Regions from separate parts of the Homo sapiens genome. Here region 2 is linked to region 1. Evidence: fine-mapped expression QTL. A gene starts in region 1. The other region holds a variant in brackets. All regions are shown on one strand. Distances are from middle to middle.

Evidence for each region.
Region 2: its variant is fine-mapped to the expression of ROGDI in prostate (GTEx, PIP 0.92).

The regions. Positions count from the first base shown.
Region 1 is chr16:4,798,972-4,814,733 of GRCh38, forward strand. ROGDI (rogdi atypical leucine zipper) reads right to left here and starts at 3,662. Exons shown (of 11, transcript NM_024589.3): 1 at 3,556-3,662; 2 at 3,411-3,482; 3 at 2,532-2,614; 4 at 2,296-2,350; 5 at 1,527-1,607; 6 at 715-810. The coding sequence starts at 3,600. GLYR1 (glyoxylate reductase 1 homolog) reads right to left here. Exons shown (of 16, transcript NM_032569.4): 11 at 15,566-15,676; 12 at 14,766-14,867; 13 at 13,115-13,277; 14 at 12,652-12,831; 15 at 12,199-12,323; 16 at 4,232-6,339. The coding sequence ends at 6,265. RefSeq lists enhancers at 3,170-3,670, 5,717-6,011 and silencers at 3,176-3,235, 3,276-4,065, 3,958-4,169.
Region 2 is chr16:4,843,651-4,856,566 of GRCh38, forward strand. It overlaps UBN1 (ubinuclein 1), which reads left to right and starts at 3,831. Exons shown (of 18, transcript NM_001079514.3): 1 at 3,831-4,560; 2 at 9,229-9,516. The coding sequence starts at 9,268. It overlaps GLYR1 (glyoxylate reductase 1 homolog), which reads right to left and starts at 3,638. Exons shown (of 16, transcript NM_032569.4): 1 at 3,578-3,638; 2 at 2,524-2,560; 3 at 1,424-1,503. The coding sequence starts at 3,615. RefSeq lists enhancers at 3,082-3,141, 3,442-3,501, 3,797-4,639, 8,220-9,419 and silencers at 3,692-4,411, 4,422-4,511. The variant G/C (reference allele first, on the strand shown) is at 8,037.

The DNA of each region.
Region 1 (15,762 bases):
GGGGTACAGGCAACAAAGGTTGGTTGTAAAGGGCCAGAGAGGGCTTCCTGGAAGAGGCGATGGATGACTGGGTTGAGGTTTTCAGGGGGGTAAGCCAGGGTCACGGCTGATGGATGGTGGGACCACCTGGAGCCCATTCCTTCCCTTTGCCGTGGAGCAGAGCCCTGGCAGACTCCTCAGAGCCCCAGCTTTCGTGCCATTCAGCCGTGGCCATGAGTACCAGGGTGATGTGGCTCCCAGGAAACACGTAAGAGCTGACTGGGGGTATAGGGCCTGTAGCACCCTAGGGTGGTTACAGTTCTCGAAGGGATCTTAGTCTATCTGGTTCTAAGTGTGAGGAAACAGAGGTCCAGAGAGGGCAGGTGAACCACCGGAGGACACACAGCAAGTCAGGGGCAGAACTCAAGCATGAGGTCAGGTGCCCAGGTCAGCTCTTCACATGTGCCACGCGGTTAATGTGAAGGCTTTCACTGCTGCTACCGGCAGTGGTGTGTGCCGAGTGCTTACTGGGGGCCCCGTGACCTGAATTATTATGGTGAACAGTCACTCCAGCTTGCCCCTGACCCCACAGGTAGAAATGGAGACACAGAGTCGGCAGGTAAGTGCTTACAGGTTGCACAGCTCAACGTGGAGGCCCTGGGATTGGAACCCAGGTGTGATTCCGGATCAAGAACGTGGGACTAGGCCCAGGAGTCAGGCCCGGGGGCAGCTCACCTTGAGGACCTCAGCGCCCGTCTTGAACTGGTAGCTCTGGTCCCGGCTGGTAAGCAGGTAAATGGCTTGGCTCACATGGTTTCTGGCATCCTGGATCTGGAAGCAGGGGTCATCCAGAGGGGTCACGCCAGCTTCCATGCGGCCAGGAGGGGAGAGTGGGTGCTGCCTGCCTGCCCCACGTCATTCCACTCTCCACACTGTCATCCCTGTGCCCCAGAGGGCCAGGTCCACGCCAGGTGATGGGCATCTGGCATCACCTGGGGCAGGCCTGGTCTCTGCCCAAGCTGACTGCCCCCTCCTTTCTAAGGGATGGACACACAGTAATGCCCAAGACAAGAGTCTGTGCGAGTTGCGGAGGGAAGCAAACAGGGCGACAAGGCAGGGGCAAGGGTGCTGAGATGGAGACAGTCGGGGTGGAGGGGGCAGGGGAGGAGGCTGGGGCCCATTGGTACAGGAGCTGCCAGGGAGCATGGGCCTCATCCCCAGAGCCATGGCAAGTCCCTGGAGGCTCTGGGCAAGGGAGTGACTTTTCAGAGGGCTTCTGAACCATCTCATCCAGCCAGCTGCTGTGGGGACTCCACAGTCCCGATGTGGCCCTCGGGGCTCTCAGGCCAGGTTCTCTACCTCCCCACATGGCGCAGCCTCCAGGGCTTCAGGAAACGCCTGCCCCCAGCTTTGCTGTTAGGAAACACCCTCCCAGGCTTGCTGTGGCCACAGATCCCCAGGGCTAGTCCCTCTCCAGGGAGGCCCCGCGGCAGGCCTGCTGCCGCCTGTCCTTGTGGCTGAGCACTAGCCAGGAGGGGCGGGGTCACCTGCTGCAGCTTCCACTGCTTGTCCTCCCGGAAGGCGAAGTGCAGCAGCTGGTTGTTCCGGGGCATCTTCAGGTTCACATCCTGACAGGCAAGAGTGGGGTGAGCTGGGCAGTGGGGGGGCACCTCCTGCCACAGCCACTCTGAGCCCTTAAGCCCAGGGCAGAAATGGGGTGTGTGGTGGTTCAGGCCTTGGCCGCTGTATAGGGCAGAGGGTCTCCCAATGCCTTGGCCGTTTGGGGGTTGAACAGGGAGGTCAGGAAACAGGAAACCAGGCCCAAGAAGAGCCACAAAGAAGTGAAATGGAAAGAGGTGAAGAAAGGGGAAGGGGAAGAGGAAAGGCAGCCTCTGTGAGGCTCTGTGCGAACGGGGTGCATCTAGTGTCTACAAAGGGCAACAGATGGAGCCCAGGAGGGGGGCCTCCCCCCACGCCTTGGTGCCTGGCACAGAGTCGGGTGCAGACTGGAGTTCAGGCATTGGCTGATTCAACTGTGATGTGTGGCCAGCCTAATCCACCAATGCCCATGTTTCACTGGTCCGGACGCCAGGCCAGGCCGTGTGCAAAGAACCCCTCTCCTGCACCTCTTACTGAATCTGCACACCGATCCCGGGAGAAGGTGTGAGGGTTGCTGTCATTTTCCAAAGGAGAAAACTGAGGCCAGAGAGATCAAGGGTCCCGCCCAGAGTCGCAGGGCTTGTACAGAGAGAAAGTGGGAGCTCCCATGCTCTTCCCCATTGGCAGGATGGGAGGGGACAGGGCCGGGGGACTCACCGCCTGGCTGAGGGCATCCCCCTGCAGAGTCAGCACACCCTTCACCTGGTCTGTGCTGTAACATGTGGCGTCAGAGCGGTGCCTGTGGTCACCCCCCCACCACCCAGCCCTCCCTCCCGGCGGGCTGCCCCTCCTGTCCCATCGCACAACCAGCTGGTCTGCAGGACAGGGCTATGGCCATGCCTCCTACCCCCCAAGGTACCCATTTCCCCGGTTTCCGCCTAGCCCAGGCTCACCCACAGCTGCCTAGGATGAAGTTCTCTTGCTTGGCGGGCCCCTCAGTGCCGGAGCCCGGCAGAGTGAAGCGCAGAGAGGCCTCCTGTGGAACAGAGGGAAGGAGGGGAGCTGGTAGCGCCCACTCAGGCCCGGCCCAGTGCTCCTTCCAGAAGCCCCCCTCCCTCCAAGTCAGCGGGGGGAAGGAACAACGTGGCCTGGCCTCACCTGGGTTCAGCTGGGGTGGGAAGACCCTGCCCAAGCCCCCAGGGCACCTAACCGTGAGCCCGATCTCTGCTTATACCACATTCCCTGAACACCTCCTGTGTGCCCGCCTCGGGGAATACAAAACAGACAGGGGCAGCCTCCCAGCTTGGTTGAGGGGGAAAGGGGCAAGGGGCAGAGTCAGGGAACAAGGCAGTAGTTATGGTAACCCGCGGTCCTGGGCCACAGCAAGCACTACGCCGGTTACTTCTGTGAGCTGCCTGGCTCATTTATCTACACCCCAGCCTCGCGAAGCGGGTACTGTTATCTCCCTTTTGCCAATGAGAAAAGGGAGGCCCAGGGAGGTTCAGTGACTTGGCTGAAGTCACACTGCCAGGCAGAGGCAGAATTCTTCGGCTCCCAGATTGGATGCCGCTGCTCCCAAGGCGGCCTTCCCCGACCCGAGGCCGGGCGGGACTCAGGCCCTTGCTAGCACCCTCGTCGGGACCCGCCCCTGCCCGCACACAGGTACTTATATAATGAGGTCGGCTCGAGTTCGCGGAGGCGGGGCCCTGCCTGAAAGCCGCGGCAGCCGCACACTGTAGGCGCTCAGGACGCAGCCGCGCGGCCCCAGGTGGAGCCAGGGAAATGAGGAGGGAGGGCCGCCACGCCCGGCGGGGCAGGGCGCGGGTCGTTACCTTGAGGATGTCCTGCAGCTGCTTCAACACAGCGTGCACCTCGTCGTGCAGCAGCCAGCGGAACTCCTCCTCCTGCGGGACAGACCCGGCGGTCGCGCCCGGCCCCGCCGCCCCGCCGGCCCGCCCGCTGGCCCGCGCGCCTTACCAGCACCGCCCGCTCCGCCGCCGTCGCTGCCATCACGGTGGCCATGGCCGCAGGCCGCCGCCGAGCGCCCTCCCCACCGGCCGCTGCTCCTGTCCACCAATCTTTCTGTCCTCGGTCCTCCGGTCCTCCCGTCCGCCCCCGGCGTCTGGCTCCGCCCCCACCCGATTGGCGGAGCGGGTACCACCCCGCCCCCAGGCCGGCTCCGTGCTCGCGATTGGCTGGCGCCTGTCGGTCCGCCTCGGCCCCCGAAACCTGCGGGAGCCCTGGAACCAGACTGGCGGCTGCGGGAGTGAGGCTCGCTCCGCCTGGCCAGGGACGCGGCCGGCGGCTGCACGAGTCAGGCTTGCTCCGGCTGGCCAGGGACGCGGCCGGCACCAGCCTGGGGCGCCCGCTTGGGGGCGGAGCTCCCGGGGCGCCCCCAGGATATGATAGGGCGCTCTGCTCCACTCGCGCTCACTCATTGGCCGGCAGGACAGTCTGTCCCCGCTCCTCCTCCCTATTGGCCCGCTTGGCTCCATTGGTCGTGGTTCCAACCCTGCCGCGGACCTCGCCGCCACTCCCAAGTCCGTCTCACCCCGGACGCGGAGGTCCCGAAAACCCACCCCGGCCCCGCCGCTGCCTTCTCCTCCCACCCATCTCGCCGAGGACGAGGGAAGCAGGACTCCTGCGGCACAGCTGTGTTACCAAGAAGTGTTTTATTTTTCTTGCAGTAGCTTTGTTAATTGCACAAAATCATGTTTTGTTTTTGCCATTTAAACATTATCACACAATCCTATTCTGAAAGACAAATGTTCATTAAAAACAAAGCAAAAATAAAAATTCACAACCTTAATTACCTAGATTTGTCATTTAAAGGTTTAAAGAAAAAAGGGAGGGGCTTTCTTACAAGCTTTTTCACAAGTGTCACATTTTCTCCTTAAAAGGGAAGGATTTCAAAAGAAAGGTGAAATAGCTTAAACAGAAATATTCATAAAAAGGAACTTTACAGAATTGTCAACAATATTAAGACAAAATTGACTAACCGGTTTCATTACCGCATCTTCCCCCGCCCCCACCCCCAGTGTGTTCCGCCAGGACTAGAACAGGCTTTGTGTTCAGACAGAAATGCTTCAAAATCCCAGTGAAATGAACTGTGCTAAAAACCCGACAGGCATCTTCCCTGCCCTCCCCCCACTCGTCTTCTGCAATCCTCTAACCCAGTTTCTAATCTCTGAAAGGGGCCAAAGCTGTGAGGGGGGAAGGACCCCGCCCTAGTGTGGCCACCCTATATATAATTACATATTGCATCGTAAATGCTGGCCTTCCTTCTGCAAATTATGATTTTGGAAAATCCAACCCATGCAGAGGGATAAAAAACTGACATCCCTTGGGTAACTTTTTTTTTTGCAACATTCCAAGCCCCCCCCGGTCCCCTATCCAAGGACAAATGTAGGGCCTCTAGGATGTCCCAGACCCACCTCGGAGGGCCAGTCAGTTCAGGTAGGTCAGGCCCAGTTCTCTTCCCTCCCGACAGACCCCGGGCCCGGGAAGCACCGAAGACCATGATGCTGGCTGGAGTGAAGACACTCGTTTCCGTATCAAGAGCTGAGCCTAAGAAATGCTCATCGTTGGTCAGGCTGGGTCTGGGCCAAAGGGACAGACAGAAAGAAATACTGTCTCCACGGGAGGAAGAGGGAGAGGAGGGAGGATGGAGAGCGGTGGGCATGCAGGGGACTTGGCAGGGCAGGGTGGAGAAGGTGGGACCACTGGGAGGGGACCGAGGTAAGAGTGGCTCTTCAGAGCCAGGTGAAGAGTCTGTGGCCTAACGGAAACAGAAAGGAGCGCCCCCAACCCCCACTCCTCTTGGCTCATCACTAGTGGCCCTGAGGACTCCCTCCCAAGGGATGGAATGCAAATCCAAATACTAAAACAGCCTAGGGAGGAGCGAGCGCCCGCTGTGGCAGTGGCATCTGGGGCATGGCTTCGAGGCGGTGAGGGCCGGGCCTCCATGCTCACCTGCAGGCCGGCTGCTTGCTGCACTCCCTGGAAAGCCAGGGCCCCATCTTCTCGGGACTCTGCCAGTCTCTTTTCAGTTCACAAAGGCGTCTATGGAGCGCTGGGTGCACACTGGACGCTTAGACGTGAACATCTTTCTCAGCTCATCACCTGAGGTTGGAGGGCCCCAAGGGCCCCTCTGTCTGGAGTCTGTACTGGCTCATCTGGGCCCAAGGCCTCTCCTTGTAGGGAATCCAGTGGGGGATGGGGACATGACTACAGCCTCTTCGCTCTGGGGGAAGCTGTGGGAAGGCTTCCAACTCTCGTTGCTGATTCTAGTTCCTTGACTGGAAGGGGTTTGAGATAAGACAAGCTCGGAAGAAAAAAAGCCAGGCAGCAGTTTCTGGGCAGCTTCTATCCTGGGGCGAGAGCCTGTGTGTGTGTGTGTGTGTGTGTGTGTGTGTGTGTGTGAACACACAGCCACCTCGTCCGGGGGGCCAGTGCCCAGCTCAAGAGCTTTCCCACACGCCAATCCTGCTGACACTTGTCCCCTCCCCACCGGCCTCAGGGGAAGGGTGCTGCTGTGTGCTGTGCTGATGGCAAGTCTCAAAGTCTGTATAAAAGGAAATGGAGATAGGTGGGCTGGTCCAGAATGAACTCCCAGGCCCCCGACCCCATGTGAGGAAGAGGGGGTCAGAGGGGGGATTGGAGGGGTGAGGGCGGGGTGTCGACAGCTTAGTGTATGTAGGCTCGGTACACGGCGGACATATCGTTGTCAGACTGGTCCAGCGCCTTGGCTCTTTTGTACACCTGGAAAAAAAAGAGATGGCTCAGTCTCTGGCCCCAGAGCTGCCTTCAAGACCTAGACCTGATTCCTGGAGGCAGTGGTGGATGTGGCCAGCAGGCAGTGCTGGAGCCCAGGCTGTCCGGTTAGGAATCCTGTGTTGACCTTGCATGAAGCACCTCCGTTTCTCTGGACCTCAGCCACTGTGCTTCTTGCTCTGGGAGAAGGAACAGTACCCGGGGGATCTTGTGAGAATGAAATACACTATGGGATATAAAACATTCAGCATTGGCCGGGCACTGCGGCTCATGCCTGTAAGGCCGAGGTGGGTGGATCACCTGAAGTCAGGAGTTCGAGACCAGCCAGGCCAAAAAGGTGAAACCTCATCTCTACTAAAAATACAAAAATTAGGGCCAGGCGCAGTGGCTCATGCCTGTAATCCCAGCACTTTAGGAGGCCAAGGTGGGTGAATCACGAGGTCAGGAGATCAAGACCAGCCTGGTGACCGTCGTGAAACCCCTTCTTTAAAAAAAAAAAATACAAAAAATTAGCCGGGCATGGTGGCAGGTGCCTGTAATCCCAGCTACTCAGGAGGTTGAGGCAGGAGAATAGCTTGAACCTGGGAGGCGGAGGTTGCAGTGAGCTGAGATCACACCACTGCACTCCAGTCTGGGTGACAGAGCGAGACTCTGTCTCAAAAACAAAAAAAGAGCAAAACTGTCTCAAATAAATAAATAAATGAATAAAAAATAAAACAAGGGCAGATGAAACACCCAGGACACCTATACCTCAGAGTGAGAGTTCTCACACCTGTGGTGCTTCTGCCCCCAGGGGACATCTGGTAATATCTGGAGACATTTTCTGTCACCTGAGGAGGAGCTATGTCACTGGCGTCTGGTGGGTGGGCTACCCAACATCCTGCAGTGCTTGGATAGCCCCCCCACACAGAATGGCAGCAGTGCCGAGGTTGAGAAACCCTGCCTTAAAGGATGAGGGAGAGGAAGGGGGAAAGAAATGCTTCTGTGTGGTTGCAAAGTTTTTACATTTAATGGGAAATGGTACAAGATTAACTGTCTTTTTTTTTTTTCTTGAGACAGGGTCTTGCTCTGTTGCCCAGGCTGGAGTGCAGTGGTAGGATCATGGCTCATTGCAGCCTCGAACTCCTGGGCTCAAGCAATCCTCCTGCCTCACCTGCCTCAGCCTCCCAAGTAGCTAGGAATAGGGTGCTCGCCACCACGCCCAGCTAGTTTTTTATTTTTTTTTGTACAGATGGGGGTCTTGCTATGTTGCCCAGGCTGGTCTCAAACTCCTGGGCTTGCTTAAGCCTCGACCCTGCCTCGACCCTGCCTCGACCTCCCAAAGTGCTAGGATTACAAGGATCACAAGTATAAGCCACTGTGCCTGGCAAGATTAACTCTATCTTAAGGATTTATACCGCAATCTGTAGAGTAACCACTAAAAAAAGAATGCAGAGGCAAAGTAAAAAAGAAAATAGATAAATGAAACTGGAATTCTTTTTTCTTTTTTTTTTTTTTGAGATGGAGTCTTGCTCTGTCGCCCAGACTGGAGTGCAGTGGTGTGATCTCGGCTCACTGCCAGCTCTGCTCTGCCTCCCGGGTTCACGCCATTCTCCTGCTTCAGCCTCCCGAGTAGCTGGGACTACAGGCGCCCGCCACCACGCCTGGCTAATTTTTTGTATTTTTAGTAGAGACAGGGTTTCACCCTGTTAGCCAGGATGGTCTTGATCTCCTGACCTCGTGATCCACCCGCCTCGGCCTCCCAAAGTGCTGGGATTACAGGCGTGAGCCACTGCGCCTGGCCCCTTTTTTTTTTTTTTTTTTTTTTGAGACGGAGTCTTGGTCTGTCGCCCAGGCTGGAGTGCAATGGCACGATCTCGGCTCACTGCAACCTCCGCCTCCTGGGTTCAAGTGATTCTCCTGTCCCAGCCTCCGGAGTAGCTGGCATTAATAGTGCCCGCCACTATGCCCGGCTAATTTTTGGTATTTTTAGTAGAGACTGGGCTTCACTATATTGGCCAGGCTGATCTCGAACTCCTGACCTCAGGTGATCTGCCCGCCTCAGCCTCCCAAAGTGTTGAGATTATAGGTGTCAGCCACCGTGCCCAGCTGAAACTGGAATTCTAAAAAGAAAGTAAGAAAGGAGGAACAAACAAAAGACAAAGACAACGAACAGAAATCAAATGATAAAATGGCAGCCCCAAATTGAACCACATATCAATACAACTACTAAAGGTCAATGCACCAGTTAACCTTCAGAACCTAACCTCTGAACTCCTAACAGTATAGAGTCTAAGCTCATACCATCCAAACGACCTGAAAGCAGCGAGCTGCATTGAGAAATTAACCTAAAAACTCTGCTTCCAAGCCAATGAATCCTGTAGTCAGGGTGGAGGCAACTTGGAAGTCACTTCAAAGAGAAGCTTTCCCAGCCCAAGCCACATGAAACCCTTGGGAAATAACTATAGTCAGAAATGAGCTTTCATCAAAAAAGACTTATAAAATACACAACGAATTCTACTATCCAGAGAGAATCCACTGGTAGAATGAACAGGGGGGACTTGAAATAGTAATGTAATCTGAAAGAGTCATGAAATAAGTACTCTGAAATGTTGAAACAGACAAGAGACAGAAGACAGAATTTAGGAACAAGGCTGCATGCGGTGGCTCATGCCTGTAATCCCAGCACTTTGGGAGGCCAAGGCAGGCGGATTACTTGAGGCCAGGAGTTCGAGTCCAGCCTGGTCAAAATGGTAAAACCCTGTCTCTACTACAAATACAAAAATTAGCCAAGTGTGGCGGTGCATGCCTGCGGTTCCAGCTACTTGGGAGGCTGAGGCAGGAGAATCACTTTAACCCAAGAGGTGGGGGCTGCAGTGAACTGAGATCATGTCACTGCACTCCAGCCTGGGCAACAGAGTGAGACTCTGTCTCAAAAAAAAAAAAAAAAAAAAATACAATTCAGGAACAGAGAATTATACTATGAAAAGCCAGGTGTCAAAAGAACAGTACTGGCTGGGTGCCATGGCTCACGCCTGTAATCCCAGCACTTAGGTAGGCTGAGGTGGGTGGATCACCTGAGGTCAGGAGTTTGAGACCAACCTGGCCAACATGGTGAAACCGTATCTCTACTAAAAATACAAAAAGTTAGCCAGGAGTACTGGCAGGCACCTGTAATCCCAGCTACTGTGGAGGCTGAGGCAGGAGAATCACTTGAACCCAGGAGGCAGAGGTTGCAGTGAGCCGAGATTACACCATTGCACTCCAGCTTGGGCAACAAGGGTGAAACTCGGTCTCTAAAATAAAATAAAATAAAATAAAATAACATAAAATAAAAGTGTATCAGCTGATAGTACTTTAAAAATACAGCTGCTGTTTCACAAAGTGTCATTTTTATTATAATAATATGGTAAAGACAAATGTTTTTCAGTTGTTTTTTTTTTAGATTCAAATTCTATGAAGATGAGCTAAGAAAGCGGAACTTCTACCCTAAAAAGCTTTTCGAAAGTGTATGTGAAGTTGGATACAGTTGTGCACGCCTATAGTCCCAGCTACTCGGGAGGCTGAGGTGGGAGGATTGCTTGAGCCTAGGAAGTCAAGGCTGCAGTGAGCTATAATTGTGCCACTGCACTTTACCTGGGCAAGAGAGTGAGACTGTGTCTCAAATATAAAAAAAGTGCACGTGTTAAGTGCTTAAAACATCATTTGAAAAATGCTAATAGACATGCTAATTAAAAGGCAGATACTGTCAAAATGGATAAAAATCCAAACCCCAATTACATACTGTCTATCAAAGCCATAATTTAGACATAAATAAGAGAGGAAATGGATGGAAAAATATACATACCATGAAAACAATAAGCCTGAGAAGGCTGTAGCAGCTTTCGTTTTTTTTTTTTTTTTTTTGCGATGGAGTCTCACTCTGTTGCCCAGGCTGGAGTGCAGTGGTGCGATCTAGGCTCACTGCAACCTCCCGCCTCCCAGGTTCAAGCAATTCTCTGCCTCAGCCTCCTGAGTAGCTGAGATTAAAGGTGCCTGCCACCATGCCCAGCTAATTTTTTGTATTTTTAGTAGAGATAGGGGTTTCAACATCTTGGTCAGGAGAATGAGACCATCCTGGCTAACACAGTGGAACCCCGTCTTTACTAAAAATACAAAAAATTAGCCAGGCATGGTGGCAGGCGCCTGCAGTCCCAGCTACTCAGGAGGGTGAGGCAGGAGAATGGAGTGAACCCGGGAGACGAAGCTTGCAGTGAGCCGAGATCGTGCCACTGTACTCCAGCTTGGGTGACAGAGCGAAACTCCGTCTCAAAAAAAAAAAAAAAAAAAATCATACAGGCAGCTGGTTGTGGTGGTTCATGCCTGTCATCCCAGCACTTTGGGAGGCTGAGGTGGACGGATCACCTGAGGTCAGCAGTTCAAGCCCAGCCTGGCCAACATGGTGAAACCTCATCTCTACTAAAAATACAAAAATCAGTTGTGTATGGTGGTGTGTGCCTGTAATCCCAGCTACTCAAGAGGCTGAGGCATGAGAATCGCTTGAACTTGGGAGGCAGAGGTTGCGGTGAGCCGAGATCGCGACACTGCACTCCAGCCTGGGCGAAAGAGCAAAACTCTGTCTCCAAAAAAAACAAAAAAACAAAAAACAAAAAAACAAAAAAAACCCAATACAGGGCAGGGCATGTTCTTTGATCATAGAGCAGTAAGTTAAAAATCAATAATCATTAGATATCTAGGAAAACCCAAACACTAGATAAACTTTTAAGTAATTCATGGATCAAAGAAGAAATCAGAAAACAAATTAACACGGATTAGTGGACATTTAAAGATTTATATACTCATGTTATAAAGAAAGCAGGATTAAAATAAATGATTTAAGATTCCACTTTAAAGGGTTTGAAAAAGAACAAAGAGGCCAGACACAGTGGCTCACACCTGTAATCCCAGCACTTTGAGAGGCTGAGGCAGGTGGCTCTCCTGAGGTCAGGAGTTGGAGAACAGCCTAGCCAACATGGCAAAACCCCATCTCTACTAAAAATACAAAAATTAGCAGGGCGGGTTGGGGCACGCCTGTAATCCCAGGCTACTTGGGAGGCTACTTGGGAGGCAGAGGCACAAAAATCTATTGAACCCAGGAGGCAGAGGCTGCAGTGAGCTGAGATCACACCACTGCACTCCAGCCTGGGCGACAGAGTGAGACTCTGTCTCAAAAAAAAGAAAAAGAACAAAGAAAAGCTAAACTAAGTAGAGGGAAGGAAACGATAAAAGAAAAAGAAACTTGGCCAGGTGTAGTGGCTCACACCTGTAATCCCAGCACTTTGGGAGGCCGAGGCGGGCAGATCACGAGGTCAGGAGATCGAGACCATCCTGGCTAACATGGTGAAACCCTGTCTCTACTAAAAAAAAAAAAAAAAAAAAAAAAAAAAAAAAAATTAGCCGGGCGTGGTGGCAAGAGCCTGAGGCGACAGAGCAAGACTCTGTCTCAAAATAAAAGAAAAAGAAAAAGAAAAAGAAACTGAATGGCTGGGCGTGGTAGCTCATGCCTGTAATCCCAGCACTCTGGGAGGCAGAGGCGGGTGGATCACCTGAGGTCAGGAGTTCGAGACCAGCCTGAACAACAAGGAGAAACCCCATCTCTGCTAAAAATACAAAAATTAGCTAGGCATGGTGGTGGGCACCTATAATCCCAACTACTCAGGAGGCTGAGGCAGGAGAATTGCTTGAAACCAGGAGGCGGAGGTTGCATTGAGCTGAGATCGCACCAGTGCACTCTAGCCTGGGTGACAGAGTGAGACTCCGTTAAAAAAAAAAAAAAAAGAAAGAAAAAGAAACTGAAGGGCCTTGGGGCTTGGGCCACATCTACCCTACCTCATTTGCTGCAGCTGCCATGGGAGTCGGATGGTTGACCGCATCACCCAGCGCAATGGCTAAGCGGAGATCCTTCTGAATGTATTTCAGGTAGAAATCAGGCTTAAAGTTTCCTTGCAGGATATCTGAGGAGAAAAAGCCAGTATCAGACAAAAGCCAAGGACCTGAAACTAAAAACTACTTACGGTCCACCAGGTGTCAGTACCTAAAACATACTCAGGGCTCAGTTCCACATAGCCTAGGCCTCTTGGCTCCTCACTCACCCTTAGACACCTGAGGGCTGCAGCTCCCAGCCTATATCCCCAAATCCCGCCCACTGTGTTTCTGAACCTCCTCTGGCCAGGGTCAGGGACTGACTGGGGAGGGGCATCTTTCACGCTCACTAAATCCCTGACCTAGTACCCTGCTCTAATCAAACACCAAATGCAAGAAGAGGGGCCAAAAACAACTCACTTTGGCACTTCTGGTCCAGGAAGATGCTGGCCAACTGTCCCTGATTGAGGATGTCCAAGAGTGTCTGCTGGGACTGGCCTGTCACCTGGGCCAGGGTCAGCCCCTCGGCAATAGTGGCCATGAAGCTCCCTTGGACCATGTTCACGATCAGCATCATCTTGGCTGCATTGCCCACTTCACCTGCCCAGGGTAAAGACTCACGGTCACAGCCCAAGAATGCCACAGACAGGGCTTCTCTGTCCACCCTCACCTCTGCTCAGACCCACCTCTCTCCAGGGGAGGCCCCCTTCACCTGCCCCCGACAGACTGGCTCTTCCTCCTTCCACGCACTGACTATGCAGGTGAAAGGAAACCTTCCCCAGGGTCCCCGGCAGAAAGGCCGTGTGGGACTGACGCTGTCATCAGTGTGAAACAGAGGAGATGTGGCCCCAGGCTCCAGGCCTGACAGGTGCAGGCGTGTTACCTAGGAAGAAGGAGGTCTTCCCCATCGCCTGGAAGCAGCTGCTGCAGTCCTCATATAAGCCCCTGTCTCCAGCCGCTAAGATCACCAACATCCCGTCATTAGACAGCTGCTGATTCCCTGAGACGGGGGCTTCCAGAAAGCGCCCCCCCCTGGACACAATCACCTGGAAAGAAAAGTCACAGCTTCTGGAGGCCTCCCCTCTCCCAGCGCTCTCTGGGCAGGACTCAAGGAGTGTTGCTGAGTGGCCACGGCTGCTCATCACCTTCCAGAGCTGGAGGGGACGGCCACCCATACCAAGGTCCTTTAGCTGACACCTAAACTCAGGAGCTAACCATGTGCAGGTCACACAGGCCGAATCACAGCAGTGATGAGACGCTGGGGTCTCCACACAGGAACCCAACTGACTTGGAATTTTTTTTTTTTTTTTGAGGTGGAGTCTCGCTGTCGCCCAGGCTGGAGTGCAGTGGAGCGATCTCGGATCACTGCAAGCTCCGCCTCGCGGGTTCATGCCATTCTCCTGCCTCAGCCTCCCGAGTAACTGGGACTACAGGCGTCCACCACCACGCCTGGCTAATTTTTTGTATTTTTAGTAGAGACAGGTTTCACCATATTAGCCAGGATTGTCTTGATCTCCTGACCTTGTGATCCGCCCGCCTCGGCCTCCCAAAGTGCTTGGATTACAGGAGTGAGCCACCACGCCTGGCCGGAATTTTTTTGTTTTGTTTTTTTGAGACAGAGTCTTGCTCTGTTGCCCAGGCTGGAGTGCAGTGGCGCAATCTCAGCTCACTGCAAACTCTGCCTCCCGGGTTCATGCCATTCTCCTGCATCAGCCTCCTCAGTAGCTGGGACTACAGGCAACCGCCACCATGCCTGGCTAATTTTTTTTTTTTTTTTTGAGACGGAGTCTTGCTCTGTTGCCCAGGCTGGAGTGCAGTGGCACGATCACAGCTCACTGCAAGCTCCGCCTCCTGGGTTCATGCCGCTCTCCTGCCTCAGCCTCCCAAGTAGCTGGGACTACAGGTGCCCGCCACCGCGTCCGGCTAATTTTTTTGTATTTTTAGTAGAGATGGGGTTTCACCGTGTTAGCCAGGATGGTCTCGATCTCCTGACCTCGTGATCCGCCCACCTCGGCCTCCCAAAGTGCTGGGATTACAGGCGTGAGCCACCGCGCCCGGACTGGAATTTCTTAGAGACCAACAACTAGAACCAGATGTGACCATGTCAATGGCTCGGCTGAACACACACCTCCCCTGTGGATGCTGCCCTCCCCTCAGAACATATGTGGGTCCCAAAGTCCCCACTCCCTTATTTGGGCCAGATGCTCGGGGAGGAGGGATGCTTTGCCAGTGTCAAATGCAGACAGCTGCTCAAACCCCAATGCCAGGCGGGCGGCCTGGGTTGCTTCTCATCATAAGGCTGGCAGCTCCAGGACTTGATGCCCATCCCAGCCATGCAGCGACTGCCCATGGCTGTTCAGACTAGCTGCGGTTTGAAGGTGGAGCACGGGATAGGCTAGTCCCAAGGCTACTCGCCTCTCCTCTTCCCTCTCTGGCTTTGGCTCTAGAGTAACTTAACTGCCCACTCTTGTAAGCCTGGGTCTTGGGCTCTGATAGAAAAGATGCTGGAGAGCCAGCCCAAGGAAGGCTGCTACCTGGGCCAGCTCAGTGACGGTGTCAGCGTCCACTGTTGACATGTCCACGTAGCACTTCCCAGGGCGGATCCCTTGCAGCACACCACTGGGGCCCAGCACCAGCTGTGGGGACACAAGGGAGAAGCAATAGCCCAGGCTCCCGGGCAGATGCTCAGGAGCCCTACAGACCTCAGATCAGAATCCTGCTGCTGTTTTGGCTCATTTCCTGATTTCTATCAGCTGAAAAGGGAAGAACAATGAAATAAGCAAGGGATAGAAAAGTACTTCCCGCATGCTCCCATTTATCTTTAAAAAGAATCTATGTGAGTGTGTGCATTTCTTTTTATTTAAAAAAAAAAAAAAACAAACCCCATTTAAAAGAATAAACCTCAGCATTTACTTTGGGGACTTCTTTGGATTTACTTGGATTAGGCTAGTCACCAGTTTAATAAGATGACTACCACACTTGAACTTCTAAAATATACAAATACAGTGACAGCTAAACATAGAAGCTTGGCACCTGGACCAAAGGCACATTCAGTTCCAAAGCTTCTAGTTCAACAAGAACACATGAAGCCTGTTCAAGACACATTTCAGCACAGACTTCAAGGGCCCTAGTAGTGTTCATTCTTTGATCTGAATTAAAGGAAGTCTGTATTCAATTAATGCAAACACCCTTCACAATGGGAGATGGCCCCTGATGGGAAATTCAGCCCCCCACATGTGGACACTCACTTGGTGTGCAGGGGAGGAGGGGAAGAGGCCAGCCAGCAATCCTGGCTGTGACCCGGAGTTGCTGAGGGGAGGGAGGGGGTCCTTACGTCCTTGGCCGCCTTGGGATCCGACACGCAGGCGAAAGTGATGTCGCAGGTTGAGACGACTTCAGCGGGGGTTCTTCCCAGACGGGCCCCCTCCTGGATGAACAAATCACACTGCAAAAGTCACAGATCCTAACGTGAGCTGCAGGCAGTGCACAACAAACATGCCAGCCAGGCCAGAGAATTGCTGACCAGGCCTC
Region 2 (12,916 bases), 43 kb after region 1:
GAGTGAAGAATACTGTTTATAATATATCGCTTTCTAAGTAGAAATACTTTAACCGTCAGAATTAGATTTACCAGAGAAGCCACAGACATTTTTTTCAAATCTAAGGCTGTATTTTCCTATAAGAATAATAAATAGAAATACAACTACTTAAAGAAATCAAACCGGCTGGGCATGGTGGCTCTTGCCTGTAATCCCAGCACTTTGGGAGGCTGAGGGGGTTGGGGGGGGGAGGGGCAGATGACTTGAGGTCAGGAGTTTGAGACCAGCCTGGCCAACATGGTGAAACCCCGTCTCTACTAAAAAATATAAAACAATTAGCCGGGTGTGGTGGTGTGCGCCTGTAGTCCCAGCTACTCGGGAGGCTCAGGCACCAGAATCACTTGTACCCGAGAGGTGGAGGTTGCAGTGAGCTGAGATCATGCCACTGCACTCCAGCCTGGGTGACAGAGTGAAACTCCATCTCAAAAAAAAAAAAAAAAAAAAATCAAACCATCTAGCTAGACCCAGGTAAGCCACTTGACATAGTGATAAAAAGCTAAACAAATCACTAGCAACTCAAGTTAATACAGGTTCTTCACGTTCTTCCCGTCACTGTAACATGTTATATGGTCAGAGTCTCAGATTAATGGTCCTGGTTTCCCCAACTTAGGACAGATCTGGTAAAAAGACTTACTATAACAATGTCAAAGCAAATCACTTAGTTTTACACATGAGAACATGATTGAACAATTACTTTTATTAACATAAATAAAAGTTTCCACTGTATACCCCAAGCATGAACCATAATGATATATGGCATTAAAAGAGAACTGAACATGGCTTTTATAAAAATAATTGCCAGCTGGGCGCAGTGGCTCACGCCTATAATCCAGCACTTTGGGAGGCCAAGGCAGGTGGATTGCTTGAGTCCAGGAGTTCAAGAACATCCTGGGCAACATGGTAAAACCCCCTCTACAAAAAATTAGCTGGGCATGGTGGTGCACACCTGTGGTCCCAGCTACTCGGGAGGCTGAGGTGAGAGAACCGCTTGAGTCAGTGAGGCAGAGGTTGCGGTGAACTGAGACTGCCTCTGCACTCCAGGCTGGGTGACAGACTAAGTCTCTGTCTCAAAAACAAACAAAAAGGAACTGCCTTTGGAGTTGGGTAAAGAAACATGTGAGAAACTGTTTCAATGTGATTGTTATAGTTAGAAGGTAAATGAACCTAGTTCTTGCCTGACTTAGTTATAGACCTAGGACAGTTGTCTAGGGCAATTTCTGCAAGAAATTGCACCTTTATTTAGGTATGAAGGCAGAATGAGATGCCAGTATTACACATTATAAGAAGACTGAACTAAGGATCCTTAGAATATTTTCAAAGCAGCTCAGACTCCAGGTAACACAGAAAGAAAGGCGAAGGGAGACTCCTGGTGAGTACTACTCACTGATCTTCTGTTCCAAAAAATTTCACAAAGAAGCATTTCTTTCCGCGAGGTTTCTTCAAGTCCTTTGGTGGATTAACAATCTGGAGGATAAAAGGGGGGAAAAAGGTTGGCTGGCAACACAGCAGCCCACTTTCTAGTGGCTCCACATTGCTCTACAGTTCTACGTTGCTAAGAAAAAAGTAAATTAAAAGGACTTACTTACAAATAAATTTATTTATATACAAAACAGAACCCAAGGCCTAGTACTTGTCTAAATCTCCCATTTTTCTATTGAGGTGTATGGAAATGTGTAGATATTCTAGAAGTTCCCAATATTTAACATGTAGCACAGTGCTCAGTAGACACAATATCCCTTTTACTGCAGTGGCCCTGTTTTACAAGCAGTTAAAACTAAGATCAACAGCATCCCCTGCCCCCCACCACCCCACCCCTGCTCCAATGTGACCCCATTATTACTGAAAAAATGCAGACGACACTCTTTGAAATACTTCCTGTGCAGGAAGGGTTGACACAGGACATAGTGAAAACAAAGGACAACCGAGGCACAGAAAACACCATATTGCAAAGAGACCATCTAAAGACACCTCCCGGGCTCCAAGCAAGAATATAAAAACACAACATTTGGAAAGCAATGATGGATCACCTCATGCAAAATCTGGAATGCCAACTTCTGCAAAGAGGCACTGGAGTAGCACATATGGTAACATGGAAAGAAGATTTAAACTTAGTTGGGACAAAAATACTTTGGCTTTTCACTAACCTACATTTAGACTTTCTTCCTGGATAATTTATATTTTCTTCTCCTTTTGTTACATTTAAGCATAAAGCTAAATTCAGACTAGAATTATTTCCGGGGTTAAAAAAGAAACTTCATAAACCTCCTCTAAATCCAGAAATAAGGGTTTAGAGAAGATTTAATGATCTGGTGTATACTGCATTGCCTTTTAAAAAATAACCGATACTAGGGGAAAAAAAATTCTAAGTGCCATCTGAATGAGCCCAATTTAACTCAATACTAGAAACTGAGAGGAATGCATCTTACATTCTCCACCTCTTCAAACCCAACTTCAGATCTCTTCCTTTAGTAGCAAGACACTCACCTTTCCTGGCCAAGGAGGATATCGGCCGAGTTTCCCCCTAGAGAAAACACAAAGAGTCAACACTTGCCCTGCAAAAGCCAGTCCATCTCCTTCAACCCACTCAATACGCAATTTATTTTCCTAAATCTCTGCTGGCATCCTCAAATGCCGAAACAAAAGCTTTCATAGCTGGGCCCAACACCCTCAGAAGTAAAATGCAAAATTGTATACTTATGTGCACAACGCATATCCATTCTTCTGTTGACAAGGAATACAGAACAACACAACTGTCAAAAGTCACTTGTCTAGAGCTTCTTAATGACGGGGGTGGGAGGACAGCTTCCTCTGTAAACACAGACTTTCCCTCCCTAAGTCTGGTTTAATTCAACAGGAGACCTGCCTGGCTTTGACAAATGCTAATGGAAGCCTTCCTCTGGGTGGAGAAACAAGCTACGCAGCTCGAGGGAGGCGGCGACAAAGTCTTGGTTCGGGCGGTTGTCTGGGACACAGAAGCAGACCGCGGGAGGCACCCAAGCGTGCACTGGTCACTGCCAAGCCATCGGTTGTAAAGGAGAAGTCCCCCCGCCGTTTCTTCGCGGGGCAACGCCAGCAGTCCGGTTTAGACAACCCCGGCTGAGCCGGCCGCACAGGTCGGCTGCATCGCAACCTGGGCTTTGACCGAATGGCACCGGCCAGATCTCGCAGGTCCGGTCCCCGGCGCTTCTGCTTTCTGGGAAGCCCCAACAAGACCCCGGGGACCGGTCGTCCGGGGAAGCCTCGCGGCACCGGCGGCTCCCTTCACGGGGGCCGCCAGTATCTGGGCCCCGAGTGCAGACCCCACCCGGCCGGCCTCGGGGATCAAAGCCGGTGCCCGACGTGGCCACCCTCGGCCTCGGTCCCCCGGGACTGGACTGCCCCTTCCGCCTGGCGCCGCTCGCAAGCGCCGGCACCTTCTCTTCCCCTCTCTCCGCGACCTGGAGCGCATAAAAAGGCAGCTCCAGGGCCGGCAGCGAACCCCGCGCCCAGGCGGGTAGCTCCCCGGCGCGTCTCGGTTGGCCCGGCCGCTCGGACTCACCACACCAAGTCGCCGAGCCGCAGACTCACAGCCGCCATCTTACCACCCAACCACCGCCGACGCACGGGCCGCCGGGAACAGCAAGTCGCCCCGGCGCCGCCCATTGGAGTGGGCCCGACCACGTGACGGGGGCCGGCTGTCACTGGCCACGCCGCTACTCTGACGTCACCGCGCCCGCCGGGGATCATTGGTCGACCGAGGGGCACGTGACGCGAGCGCCGCGGTCTCCGCGCGCCGGAGCGCAGAGACTCCCGGCTCCTTCCCCCTCCCTTCGGCTCGTGACAACGAAGCGCCCGCGGTCTGAGGCGGCGGCGGCGGCGACGGTGCGACCGGCTGAGCGCGAGAGGGAGCCGGCCTCGCGGCTCGCCCCGCCCCCGGGTCTTGGACTCCGCGCCCCTCCCCTCTCGGCGCTTCCGTTACGCCCGTTGGTCCGGCGCGGGCCCCGGGGCCATTCCCGAGCCCGAGGCGCTGGTCGGCCCCGTCGCAGCGCCAGTGAGCTACCCTGACGGAGCTCGGCGCGGCCTGGAACTCAGCCTCCGCCGGGTCTGGGCTCCCGCGCCCGGCAACTCTGCTTGGCCGCAGGCCGGGAGGCCCCGGTGTCCGCGCCCGTCCGCTCCCGCCGCCCGTGTTCTTTGGAGCGCTCCTCCCGACGGCCGCTTTCGGAGGCGCCGTCTGAGCGCGGGGTCCCGCGCCGCAAGTTCTCCTGGGGCGACCGGAGGCTGCTCCCCCGACCCCCTGGTGTCCCCGGAGTGGCTGCGCGGACGTCGAGTTGGCATTTCTTCGCTTCCTCCTGGGCCGGCGCGCGGCGCGGCACACCAGGCTCCCCTGGGCTCGGGGACCCGGCCATGGGCCGAGGCGCGGGCCGCCCGCCCGCTGGGAGCCACGGCTTAGCAGCCGACCGCTAGCTGCGCCGCCGCCCGGGGACCGGCATGAGGACCGCCGCGGGGGGACGTCTGCGGCCCGCGTCGGCGCTGGGGACAAAGGTGCGTGTCGTTGTCGGGTCCGGGCTCTCTCGTTAGCCTTGCCCTAGTTTTGCACTTTTGAAAAAGTTGTGACAACAGGAAGACAGATGCCGGGCGTAGTTTGGACACTTTAAAACTGAACCATGAACTGGGAAGTGTTAACTGCAGTTGAGCGCAGCGTCGGCCCAAACTTCAGCAGACCAGGTAGAATCACAATTTTGCAAAAGATCCCAGTCCCGATCACAGACTCCACAGTGTTAAGGATTGACTTAGACTTGGTGTCGGGCTCTTGTTGAGTCACTGCCAGCTGGCAAAGGTGGCGAGTCGACACGCATTTCCCCAAGGCATTGTGGTGGTTAGAGATTTCGGTTGCAAGTCGGTGTTTAGCGTACTGGGTCGTCCCGCAGCCTGATTTTTCTTGGGAGATCAGTTTCCCTGAAGTACCAAGAATTAGCTGCACGGACTGTCATTTACTGCGTGTGTATTTTTAAGACAAAGTGATCTTTAAAGCGTATTTAAGATTCCAGGGAATAATTTGATAAAAATTTAACATAAGTTCCTGTTTAAAAATTCTGAATTTGTGAGGAATTGAATGAGATTTTAATAACTTAAATAAAAACATGAATCTTGGCCGGGCAGGGTGGTATAAGCCTGTAATCCCAGCATTTTGGGATGCCGAGGCGGGTGGACCACCTGAGATCAGGAGTTCGAGACCAGCCTGGCCAACACGGTCAAACCCAGTACTCTACTAAAAATACAAAATTAGCCGGGCGTGGTGGCGCATGCCTGTAGTCCCAGCTACTTGGGAGGCTGAGGCAGGAGAATCGCTTAACCCGGGAAGCGGAGGTTGCCGTGAGCCGAGATTATGTCACTGCACTCCAGCTAGGCGACAGAGCGAGCGAGACTCGTCCCCCCGCCAAAAAGAAAAAAGAAAAAAAAATCTCAAATGAACATTGCACCAAAACCTAGAGGCATTCCCCTTAACATCAGAAACATGGTACATTTCTACCACTATTAGATAATAAGAATATATTGCCTAAAACCTGAAAGTTCTAGCCAGTGCAGTAAGACAGGAAACAAAAATAAGAAATGCAATTTTTGGAAAAGGGAAGACAGAATTCTCATTTCCGTGGATGATAGGTCTGCCTATTTTGAAAACAAAAACAAAAACCAAAAAACCCATTAAAATAAGAATTCAGGAAGGGTACTCATTATAAGTTGGAATGCACAATTTAGTTTTTCTGTTTCATCAATAACCAGTTTGAAAATACAATGTTTAGAAGGAGATATATATATATATAGTAAGAAAAAATTAAAAATTGCTGAGGATAACCAAGGGACAAGGAAGGCTAGTATTTTCTCAGTAACACCAACTGAGGTTTTTAAAGGGGGATCTTTGTTTTTTTCTTTTTTTTGTTTGAGACGGAGTTTCACTCTTGTCGCCCAGGCTGGAGTGCAGTGGCAGGATCACGGCTCACTGCAGCCTGGACCTTCCCAGTCTAAAGCCATCCTCCCACCTCAGCCTCCTTAGTAGCCAAGACTACAGGGGTGTGCCACCATACCTGGCTAATTTAAAAAAAATTTTTTTGTGCAGATGAAGTCTCATCATGTTGTCCAGGCTGGTCTTAAACTCCTAGGCTCCAGCGATCATCCTGCCTTAGCCTCCCAAAGTGCTGGGTCCGGGAAGTTGAGGCTGCAGTGAGCTCTCATGGTGCCACTGCACTCCAGCCTGGGCAACAGGAGTGAGGCAACTGTCTCACAAAAAAAAAAAAAAAAACCACAAAAAAAGCTAAAATCTTTCCAAGGACTTAGGCAACTCTCGTAAGTCTAATAGATAAATGTAAGTTTTTTTTAAGCATTCAAACATGTTTGAACTTAATTATATTTTCTTAAGCATTTTGAATTATGATTGTAAGTCTAACGTACCATTGTTAAATATATTGGATTCTCTTAAATGTTTCAAATGGCTTAGTAACAGCAGAACATTATAATGATTATAAAACAACCCCAAATCTAAGTGGTAATAGAGTACAGATTTGACTCACTTTATCCTGTAGTCCTATTTTTTACCTTCTTGGGCCTGGAGAGTCACTTAAGCAACTGAAAGGAGCAGTTTTGCCATCTAGGATTGAAGCTGCAGTCTCTCAGACTTGGACTGAGATAAGGTTATGTGTTTACTGCCTGGACAGGGGGAGTAGGACCTGGTTGCCAATTCAAGGATGACCTTCCTGCATCCCATTGGTTAACTTGCTGATTCCCTTCTTATAGTGAGACTGTTCCGGTTCTATCAGTGGGGGAATCTGTAAGCCTTCAGCTGGGATTTATTTCCACAACCCAGCGCATCACAAATATCCTGAGGGCCTTGGAGATTTCTTTTAGGGAAATCTCCTTTAACATCTTAGTACGTGTTGGGAGATGGTCTTTTGCAGCGCCAGCCTGTTACACTGCTAATCGTTTTGCCGCCTGATTAGAATTATTTTAACTCTTCATTTGTAGATATTTTGTTCCCTTATGTGATGTTATAAGTTGATTTTGTGATCATAATTCGACAAATGAATATTGGATATATACAAATACGTCTACATGTATGTGGATATATACGATATATGCTAATTTTCCTGAATTAACTCACATTTGTGATTGATTTACAACCAAAATACAGTGAGTTTTTTTGAAACCTGCCAAAATAATACATAGGCTGGAATGGCAAAGTATTATTTATAAAGAAGGATAATAAACATGAGCTTTAACTTTGCAACATTAAAGTATGAAACTTTACAAAACAGTGCAATACTGATTAAAGAATCTCTAAATACCGTATTAATATGACACATGGACTTCAGAAACAGGCCTTAGATATCTGTGATGTTGCTTTGCAATATATGCCAAATCAGCAGAGGAAGGAAGGATTGTTTAGTGATTGATGCTGGAAGAAACCAAGTTACAGCCTCTCCTCATACTTTATAGCATAGCAAATTCATCTGGGGTTAATGAAGTAAATGTGAAAAAATATCTATAAATGACCATATAGGCTGGGCTCAGTGGCTCACACCTGTAATCCCAGCAGGAGTTCAAAACCAGTCTGGGCAACATGGCAAAACAACGTCCCTACAAAAAATACAAAAATTAGCACGCCTGTAGTTCCAACTACTAGGGAGGCTGAGGTAGGAGGATCGCTTTAGCTTGGGAGGTTGAGGCCTCAGTGAGCTGAGATTGAGTCACTTTATTCCAGCCTGGGCAACAGAGTGAGACCTTGTCTCAAAAAACAAAAAACCTATATACACAAGTTCTTCTATAAGATCTGGTTGGAGACGAACATTCTAGGCATAAAAGAAATGGGAGGAGTCTCAAAGGAAAAGAGCCTAGTTTTAACTGCATACAAAGTTATAATTTCCTTGGAAGGAGGGTCGCTTGAGGTTGTGAGCTTAAGACCAGCCTGGGCAACATAGTGGGTCAGCATCTCTACAAAAAATAGAAAAAATTAGCCAGGCATGGTG[G/C]GATATACCTGTAGTCTCAGCTCCTCGAGAGGTTGAAGTGGTGAGAGGTTTGCTTGAGCCTGGGAGGTTGAGGCTGAAGTGGCTGTGATTGGGCCACTGCTCTCTAGCCTGGATATAACAGCGAGACCCTAGCTCAAAAAAAAAAGAAAAAAGTTAACATTTCTTTCATCATACCTCACTCTAAGCAACACTAAACAGCAAATAACAAAACAAGAAGAAGTACTTATAAGAGATATGACAGATTTTGTATATCTATAATGTATAATAATTTATGTATAATATCAAGAGCGCTTACAAGTCAATAAGAAAGTCACAATTTATTCAACCATTCCCTGATTGATTGTCATTTGATTGTCATTTTGGTTGCTTCCATCATTTTTCTTGTATAAACAAGGCTGCAATGAATATCTTTATTTATTGGTATGGTAGAAAGTTCACACTAGAATATGAACTCTTTTAAAAAGCAGGACACAAAATTGTATACGAAGTAAGCAGAAAACATGTATGGCATGTATTAGCATATTCATATTCTGTGAACATTTGGAATTCTGTATTCAAAATCTATTTTGACCATTCCCAAGTGATTTTGAAGGTCTTTGGCATGTCATAATTTGTTATTTTGTCAAGGCCAGTGTTTGGGTGTGAGAGTGGTGCACAGGGCAGGAGTGTGTAACTTTGTTAGGAAGTGAGCCTAGCCACACCCTCCTGAGTCACTGGTTCTTTACTATCCTGGGGTAGGCAATATCTTTTGTTCAGCTGATAAAAGCTTTGTCATTGTGAAGATTGGCTCCCAATGATAGGAAACTGCTGGTGATGAAAATAAAGGGGTCTTAAAGATTATTCTCAGCCAGAAAAAATAAGTGTTAGACAAATTAAATGGAAAATAATTAATATTTTAGTAGTCTTTACAATTTGGAGGTCTAAGGCTCTGTCAGCATGGGTTCTTTAAGGTCAAGGATCTAGGATACACATGCACAGGAAAAAAGACTGGAAGTATGCTAAGCAGTGACTATCTCTGAATGATTGTGAAAAAATTTTAGGATGAATAAGCAGAAAAAAACAATAAATGACAAAATATAACAATGGAGTTTTCTTGACAATGAAATTCTCTTAAACTTAAATCTCTTTAATTAGGCAGGTAAACTATTTTATCATCTTCGTTTGACCTGGCCCTTCTTTTCAATGTTAACAGAAGCCATGCAGTGACACCCGCTAAGACTTGTTGGTAGCCATGTCGGAGCCCCACAGGGTCCAGTTCACCTCTCTCCCAGGTTCCCTGAATCCTGCGTTTTTGAAGAAGTCCCGGAAGGAGGAGGCTGGGGCAGGAGAACAGCATCAGGACTGTGAGCCGGCTGCAGCAGCTGTTCGGATTACACTCACCCTCTTTGAACCAGATCACAAACGCTGCCCAGAGTTCTTCTACCCAGAGCTGGTGAAGAATATCCGAGGGAAGGTAAAAGGCCTTCAGCCTGGAGATAAGGTACACCCCTTTGTTCCCAGAGGCGCTGCAGGTTTAACGCACAGGGGTCAGTGCATGCATGTGGGGCTTCCGTAGCGGGGAAGCAAGACTTAACTGAGGTTTTGGCTGCCCCAAGATCCTGTCACTCACTCAAGGCAAGCACAAGATTTGCTTCTCTTACCTCTGTGCGCAAAGGGAGAGGCCAATTTGAATTATGACTAATTAACATAAATTTTAAAAACAATACATTTTTCTCTGCCAAGGTTATAAACGTTATGTGTAAATGAAACCAGTCCCTGACAGTTCCAGTGTTAGAATTTCATGCTGGACATTTTCCTCTTCCAACAGAATCTTGCTGTCTACCTAGTATAGGGGCAGACAAAAAAACACGTAGACTGCCTTTTTTTTTTTCTTTCTTTTTTTTTTTTTCGAGACCGAGTCTCGCCCTGTCGTCCAGGCTGGAATGCAATGGGGCGATCTCGGCTCACTGTAACCTCCGCCTCCCGAGTTCAAGTGATTCTCCTGCCTCAACCTCCCGAGTACCTGGGACTGACTACAGGTGCACGCCACCACACCCAGCTAATTTCTGTGTTTTTAGTAGAGATGGCGTTTCACTGTGTTGGCCAGGCTGGTCTCAAACTCCTGGCCTCAAGTGATCTGCCTGCCTTGGCTTCCCAAAGTGCTGGGATTACAAACATGAGCCACTGCACCTAGCCACAACTTGATGGATTTTCATGAACTCAGTACCCCCATGTAACCTGCACGTAGGTCACAAAATATATTTATCAGGACCCCAGAAACCCTCCTTCTGCCCTGCCAGAAGACTACCTCAATACTTATGGGCAACCACTGCCCTGATTTCTAACAGCTTAGATCTGCTTAGATTTGTGGGGTTTTTTTGTTTTTGAGGCAGAGTCTTACTCTGTCGCCCAGGCTGGAGTGCAGTGGCACCATCTTGTCTCAGTGCAACCTCTGCCTCCCGGGTTCACGCCATTCTCCTGCCTCAGCCTCCCGAGTAGCTGGGAGTGCAGGCGTCCGCCACCACGCCCGGCAAATTTTTTGTATTTTTAGTAGAGACAGCGTTTCAATGTGTTAGTCAGGGTGGTCTCGATCTCCTGACCTTGTGATCCACCCACCTTGGCCTCTCAAAGTGCTGGGATTACAGGCATGAGCCACAGCACCTGGCCTCTCTTTTTTGTTGTTGTTGTTGTTTTTTGAGACCAAGTCTCACTCTGTCACCCAGGCTGGAGTGCGGTGATGCAATCTTGGCTCACTGCAACTTCCGCCTCCCAGGTTCAAATGTTTCTCCTGCCTCAGCCTCCCGAGTAGCTAGGATTACGGGTGCCAGCCACCACGCCTGGCTAATTTTTTTTTTTTTTTTTTGTATTTTTAGTAGAGATGGGGTTTTACCATTTTAACCATGTAGGCCATGCTGGTCTCCAACTCCTGACCTCAAGTGATCCACCCACCTCCGCCTCCCAAAGTGTTAGGATTATAGGCGTGAGTCACCGCACCTGGCCGTGTTTTTGTATTTTATGTAGATGGAATTGTATGGTATTTGAGTACCGCCTAGGTGAAAAGCTGTTTTTTTTTTTGAGACAGAGTCTCGCTCTGTCGCCCAGGCTGGCATGCAGTGGTGCAATCTTGGCTCACTGCAAGCTCCGCCTCCTCGGTTCATGCCGTTTTCCTGTCTCAGCCTCTCGAGTAGCTGGGACTACAGGCGCCCGCCACCACGTCTGGTTAATTTTTTGTATTTTTAGTAGAGACAGGGTTCCACCGTGTTAGCCAGGATGGTCTCGATCTCCTGACCTCGTGATCCGCCCGTCTCTGCCTCCCAAAGTGCTGGGATTACAGGCGTGAGCCACCGTGCCTGGCCCGTGAAAAGCATTTTTAAGCACCTGTGTCTGCCTTTGCACTGTGCTAGGCTCTGAGGAAAAGGTAAGTGGGCCCCACACTCGCAGCATTGTGGTCTCTAGCATGTCTCTTAGTGAAATGGGGATGAGGCTGGTAATTGGTTCACAGTTGTCTGAGTGTGGAACGAGAATGAAATCATGTTGTGAATTTTCTAGCAGTATGCCTCAGTGCCAAGTGATCAGTCGGTCTTATTCACAGGTGTGCTGTTCGGAGGGTATTTTTGGTTAGAAGGATTAATCTTTTTTTCCTGAGATTAAAAAAATGTGTTTTCTTGGCCTGGCATAGTGGCTCACACCTGTAATCCCAGCACTTTGGGAGTCTGAGACATGAGGATCACTTGACCACAGGAGTTCAAGACTAGCCTGGGCAACATAGTGAAACTCCATCTGTGCAAAATAATACAGAAATTAGCTGGGCATGATGGTGCATGCCTGAAGTTCCAGCTACTCAGAAAGCTGAGGTGGGAGGATTGCTTGAGCCTGGGAGGTCAAGGTTGCAGTGAGCCGTGATCACACCACCGCACTGGGTGAAAGCAAGACCCTGTGTCAAAAAAAAAAAAAAAAAAAAAAGGCTGGAAGGCCTGGCGCAGTGACTCATGCCTGTAATCCCCACACTTTGGGTGGCCGAGGCAGGCGGATCACTTGATGTCAGGAGTTTGATACCAGCCTGATCAACATGGCAAAAACCCATCTCTACTAAAAATACAAAAATTAGCCGGGTGTGGTAGTGCATGCATGTAATCCCAGCTACTCGGTAGGCTGAGGCAGGATAATTGCTTGAACCCAGGAGGCAGAGATTGCAGTGAGCTGAGATCATGCCACTGTACTCCAGCCTGGGTGATGGCGACTCCATCTCCCCCTACCAAAAAACACCAAACCAAAAAAGAAAAAGTGTTTCCTTGATTGAGATCTGATTGCCTGATTGCCAGAATGGAGGCCTGTGAGTCTGTACCAAGGGTCAGCCTGTTGCATGAGCACCACTGGGCAGAATGACAGAAAGTAATTTCAAATCCCTTTATAATTCCTGTTTCAGGAAAATGGTATCTTCTTCCTTTAGAGGAAGAGACAGGAGCAGGAGTTGGTTAATGTGTTTATTCATGGGTTCAAACCAAATCAGCAGGTCAACTGAAATTAGAACTCCAGTGCTCTGATGTCACCTTTTTGGGGACTACAGATGCCCTTCACCATTGCAGAAAAATGCATGGAGGATACACAGAGAATTTTGATCCAATTCAGAGGATTCAGTCCTGGACTTCGGGTTCAGAACTCCTAAATCGTCGTGGGTCTACTCTGCAGTGTTAAAAATACAATAAAATCAGGCACATTTGTGCAGCAGTTCTTTTAGTGTATAGTCCTTAATAGTATGAAGGCATTGTGCTAGACTCAGAGGACTATAGAAAGTTAGAGAAAACACTGTACCAGCCTCAAAACAAACATCCTATAGATGTTTTGAGAGAATGGTACCACCGCAGGTAACAGAAATTACAATATGGTCATTGTTTAAGTCT